Linked DNA regions of Homo sapiens: region 2 is linked to region 1. The links come from fine-mapping of genetic effects on gene expression. A gene starts in region 1. The other region holds a variant in brackets. All regions are shown on one strand. Distances are from middle to middle.

Region 1 (2,919 bases):
CAGGAGTTAAGGCATCTTAGCAGTAGGAGTAGTTAAAAAAAATCTTAGAAGTCTACATAGTATTCCATTGTACTGTGGCAGAGCTAGCACTCACATCAAAAGATGCAGTTACTTGCATTTTTCATATTCCAGAATTTCTGCTTAACACAGAGAATCACAGAGAACTGCATTTCCACTCTTCTCTCCCCTTTCAAAAGGCAGAAGAGTCTTACTCTATGGTCCTGATCATTACAGGCCCATGGGCAGTACCAGCAGATTACCACTGATGTTCCCTTAAGGCCCAAGGGCTCTTCAGTCAGCTTGTGGTGAATGCTGCCTGGCCTGAGACTCCACAGGACAGCGGATTCCCCTCTGGGCCTGATTAGGTTTAGAAATGTCATTTAAGAGCCAAGTCCTGCAATCCAGATTCTAAGAGACTCCTAGTTGCTTTACCCTGCTGTGGGTGAGCTGTGAACTAAGGTGCAAGCAAACTTTCCCCCTGCCTTTCTTAAGCATAAGTAGTCTTGCCTTAACACCACCATAACTGGTAATGTGCTGAGTCACACCTGAAGCCAGTAAGTATCAGAGGCTCACCAGAGGCCCTTTATGTAAGACCTGGATATCACTGCTGGTTGTTCAGGGCCCCAGGGCTCTTCAGTTAGCAGGTTATAAATTCTGCTAGGGCTGGGTCTTTCCTTTCAATGCAGCAGGTTCCCTTCTGGCCCAAGGTGTGTCTAGAAATGTCATCCAGTAGCTGGGGCTTGGAAAGGAGGCCTCATGACTCTGACTGGTGCTCTATCCTGCAGTGGCTGAGCTGTTATTCAAGATGTAAGACAATGTCTTTCCTGCTCTTCTCACTCCCCTCCTCAGTAGAAGCTCCTTTTGAAGCTGTGGGCTGTGCAGCTGGGGGTTAAGTAGTGGGGTGATGCCAGGACTCCCTTGGCTGCCCTAGCTGGTGCCTCAGTATGTCACATGCCCCCATGTCACTGGTTGTCAGCCAAGTTCAGCAGTAGGACTTGTCTAGGAGCTGCGGTCTTCATGGTCTAGATGGCCTTTAACATTAGGTAGGGCACCTGAGCACTTTAGCCCATGGTGGCAAGGTTTGTGGGAACTCAAGTTCAGACTGCTGGAATCAGGGATTCCCCCCTGGCAAGGGTTGGTTTAAGTGCTCCCTTGTAGGTTGGAGTCAGTTGAATTTGGTCCAGTTTTGCCATCTGCTATAACAGAGCAACACTGAATTCAATGCCTTACAAATGTTGTACTCCCCCTCTCCTGAGTTCACAGAATCACTCTCTGCATCATGCTGCTGCTGCTACAGGATGGGAGAATGGTGGTATCAGTGATTCAAGACTGTTTTTCCTACATCTTCAGTGCCTTTTTCAATGCTGTGGAGTTAAAACCAGGTACTGTAAGTGCTCACCTTATTTTTGGTTCTTATGATAGTACTATTTTGTGTAGATAGTTGTTAAATTGGTAATTGATTTTCTTGCAGGCAGCAACGGTGATCAGTTAAGCCTTCTATTCTGCCATCTTGCTCCACCCTGCTGTTTTTAAATATTTATTAAATCAGTCTGATCCTCTCTATTACCACTGCCCTAATGTGGACCATTATCAAGTTTTCATGGATTATTACAACAGCCTCTCTTCATGCCTGCAGTCTTAAACCCTTCCATTTTTCCCTGCAGAGAAATGTCAAAGTAACATGTCCTAAAATACAAGCTCATAGGAAATTTATTGTTCTCACATGTAGTACAAAGTTCAGGCTCTTCACTGTGAAGCATTCTGCATGGTACCTATGAGCTGTGCAAATGTCTGTTGAAGAAACAAATGGACAATAAATAAAGAGGTGAACAAGGCAAATAAGGCATAATCAGATTCCTTCATGCTTTCTCTTCTTCATCTTTTATCTTTTTTTATCGTGTACTTTTGCCTTCCACATTGATCCCTCCTTAGAACTACTCTCTCTTTCTTTGCCTTGCTAATACCTAATACCTAGTCAACCTTTTTTTTTTTTTAGACTGAGTCTCACTCTGTCACCCAGGCTGGAGTGTGGTGGTGCAATCTCTGCTCACTGCAACCTCCGCTTCCCAGGTTCAAGCAATTTTCTGCCTCGGCCTCCCGAGTAGCCGGGATTATAGGCACCCACCATCATGCCTGAGTAATTTTTGTATTTTTAGCAGAGATGGGGTTTCACCATCTTGTCCAGGCTGGTCTTGAACTCCTGACCTTGTGATCCACCCACCTGGGCCTCCCAAAGTGCTGGGATTACAGGTGTGAGCCACCGTGCCTGGCCACCTCATCAATTTTTAAGACTCAACTTAGAAGTAATCTCTTCACTGAAGTTTTCTGGACCCCTCCTCTTGCATTCCTCTCCCCACAGCATTTCAAATATTGGAAACCTTTCCTCATATTGATTCATATTAGCCTATTAATATTGTTTGGAAATTTGTCCTCTCCAAGACTCATGTTGAAATGTGATTTCCAGTATTAGAGGAAGGGCCTTGTGGGAGGTGTTTGTTTGGGTCATGGGAACGGATCCCTCATGAATGGCTTGGTGCCCTCCCCATTGTAATGAATTCACATGAGATCTGGTTGTTTAAAAAGGGACCTGGTACCTCTTTCTCTCTTTCTTACTTGCTCTCTCCATGTGAGATGCTGTCTCCTTTTGCTTTCACCATGATTGTAAGTTTCCTGAGACCTCACCAGAAGCAGATACTGGTGTAATGCTGCTTGCACAGTCTGCAGAACTGAGTTAAAACAACCTCTTTTCTTTATAAATATATATAAATATTAACCAGTCTCACGTATTCCTTTATAGCAATATAAATGTACTAAGACACCTATGTATATGTCTACCTCTGAACACAGCTCCACTGCATTTTAGCCATTTATTTTCATGTCTCTCGTTATACCTAAACTCATTTACTTAAGGACAGAGAT
Region 2 (2,919 bases), 24 kb after region 1:
AAACAAATAGGTAGTGTCTGGAGATCACATTCAAAACGGTCCTTAAAGTACAGAGGCTGGAAATATTGCTTGGGACATTATTAAGCAGTTTTTTTTTTTTTTAAATCAACATGCTTTTCAGCGGTCATCACCAGAAATCAGCCAGAAAGTGGCCCATTGAGTTTGAACAAACCATCTCCATTGGTGGAAATCAAACATGACCTTCTATGGTCTCAGTCACCAAATTGATGTTTTAAGTAACCAAGCATTTATATCTCATTTAGTTGCAAGATCTGAAGAATAAACATTATTTTCACATTGGTATACCACACTTGAATTGTTTTGAGGTATTAATAATATATAGTCAGGCAAATTTGATAAGGTCCTTAGTGACTGTTTCTGAGTTCTGATGTATATAGCAATTGTATCTATCAGGGTTCTTAGCTGTAGGCTAAAAAGTCTGACTCCAGTTTAAGCAGAAAATAAATTTTTAAAAACAGTGTGAGATCACAAAACACCCAAAATATTGAAAATGAAGTACAGAAAAAGAGTAGGACGAAGGATGCTAGGGTGCAGTCAAGAACTTAGCCAAATTCACGGCACAGAAGAGGAACAGGTCTCTACCACTGAACACAGGATGATCCAGCTTCTATGGACATCTTAGACTGCTCTTAAAAGCACTGCTACTTTTGCCCCAGAAATCAGCACGTTTGCCCCATGGCCACTCTTGGCCATCAGAATGTATTTTCTGTTGCCCCTGTTTCTTTAATATCCTTCTGTCAGTGTATTTCAATTCAAAAACCATAGAGGGTGTTTCTTATGCTAAAATCTAGGTTATGTGTCTGCATCCTAGATGCACAAAGAGGTTGAAAAGCAATCACAGAGCATTTCAGCTTCAAGGAAGACATACGATTTGCCTCTCACCCAAAATACTTAATATTTAATGAATGCTTCTTCTGTGTTAGGCACTGTTGTATGAGTTTATTTGCATAATGTGGAGAATTTATTAAACTAGGAGAGATTCAGGGAGCTACATCAAATATGTAGAAAAGGGTGAAATAATCACTTAACTCATGTTCCAGAACATATTCCAAGTAGTGTTGTAAATAGAGAAGGAATCGTTTTGGAATAATTTATGATACTGTTTTTTTAGGATAAAAGTAAAAGTATAAATCTCCCTAGATTGGTCTACCATGTCAAAATTTCAATACCAGGAAGTTTGCTCTATAAATGCTTTGGTGAAGAATTTTTCATTGGGTTGATA[T/C]ATCTGTTTTTAGAAGAATGCTCCATAGAGATCAGAATTTTTTTTTCTTTCTTGAACCACTTCAGAGAGAACTCAGTGAACTAGCTGCCAATCTTGGCATTCAGTTCCCCCAGAGAGCAGTGTTATTTACCAAATTGGTTTTAGCTGACTACCAGAGAAGCAGAAATGTGAAGCAAACACCTAACTCCTTCCACATGTTGAATCCAGTACCAGGGAAGTAAAACTTAACATTTATAAAGAATTATATAATTTCAACTTTTTTTTCTGTCAATCAAATTCTTACTCCAGCATTCTAGTGTCTGAAGAATACTGGTAAGTAGTCTCAGGGTACCAAAGATAGGAGAGAGAGAGAGAGAGAGAGAGAAAGAGAAAAGAGAGGGGAAGGAAGGGAAGGGGAGGAGATTAGAAAAGAGAGAGAATATTTGACTTTTAGAAGTGTGGACACAAAAAAATAAAATAAAAATGTACTCTTGATGTTGTCAAATATAATCATACAGTCTGGCTCTCTTCACTTCCTGACCACATTCACTCTTGAAACACAAAATCAATTCCAGCTCCCTGAAGTCACTTGTTGTGGGTCACCATTAATACCCTAATTGCAGAAACTACTTTGAAATTTTTTAGTCTAGTATCTTAATCATGTTTGACCACTCTCTGCTCTTGTAAGCTCCCATCCAGGGCACAATCTCCTAATTTCTCATGTATCACAGACTAGTCTTACATGTCTCCTAGGCAAGCTTCTCCTTTGACCAATCCCATCTGTTTCTTAGACGTAAATCCTTAGGTTCTCTCCCCGTTCTCACCTAATTTTTTCCCTTTCCTGGGTGGTTTTATCAATGGCCTCATCTACCAACAACATGACTCATTAATTTCAAGTCTCCAGCCCAGCTCTCCCTCCTGAGCTTGTGTATTCTACGGCCAGCTGCTTATGCAGGGAATATTTATAACTAAATGTGCCATTGTAACTGCAGCATCCTTAAACTCGAATAACCTTCCCAGACAGATGCTCCAGAAAGTAGTATCTTTGTGATAATATGATTAAATGATAGGTATCATGGTACAAGCAGCTGGATGAGTAAAACCAGAGGATTATGTTTATGATAAAATAGGAAAATAAGAGAAGTTAAATATTCGGTATTTAAGAGTTTAACATGTCATAAAGAGAAAATAGATGGTGCAACTGAATGCATTTTTAAATTGAAATCTACCATGTAAAATTTTTTTATTATTTCAATAGACTATAAGTTCCATTAAGTGTAGGACAAAGATAGTCTTTCCTACCACTACACTGCAATTTCTCCAATAGTTGTGTTTTAATAAACATTTGTGGATTTCTGGTAATATTATAATAATGCCAATTGTGATGATGATAGTAAAGGTATTTTGCAGTAACATGTGCTAATTATTTGTTACTGGTACATTTTAGGTGCTCAGTAAATTTTAGTGGATAAAAGATAAAAGAGTAATTTTTTACACATTTGGGTTTTTTAAATTTTTTAAAATTTAATTTAATTTTATTTGAAATTCCAGGATCCATGTGCAGGATGTGCAGGTTTGTTACATAGGTAAACATGTCCCATGGTGGTTTACTGCACCTATCAACCCATCACATAGGTATTGAGCCCTGTATGCATCAGCTATTTATCCTGATGCTCTCTCTCCCCCTGCCCCCCGCA

The links. PIP is the estimated chance that this variant, and not a neighbour inherited with it, causes the effect.
Region 2: its variant is the best candidate, but not a certain one, in a credible set for the expression of LINC02070 in cerebellar hemisphere (GTEx, PIP 0.70).

The regions. Positions count from the first base shown.
Region 1 is chr3:86,480,676-86,483,594 of GRCh38, forward strand. It overlaps LINC02070 (long intergenic non-protein coding RNA 2070), which reads left to right and starts at 1,268. Exons shown (of 2, transcript NR_135563.1): 1 at 1,268-1,382. RefSeq lists an enhancer at 55-1,254.
Region 2 is chr3:86,504,756-86,507,674 of GRCh38, forward strand. No RefSeq gene overlaps it. Among named protein-coding and RNA genes, the nearest start is that of LINC02070, 24 kb to the left of the region's middle. The variant T/C (reference allele first, on the strand shown) is at 1,244.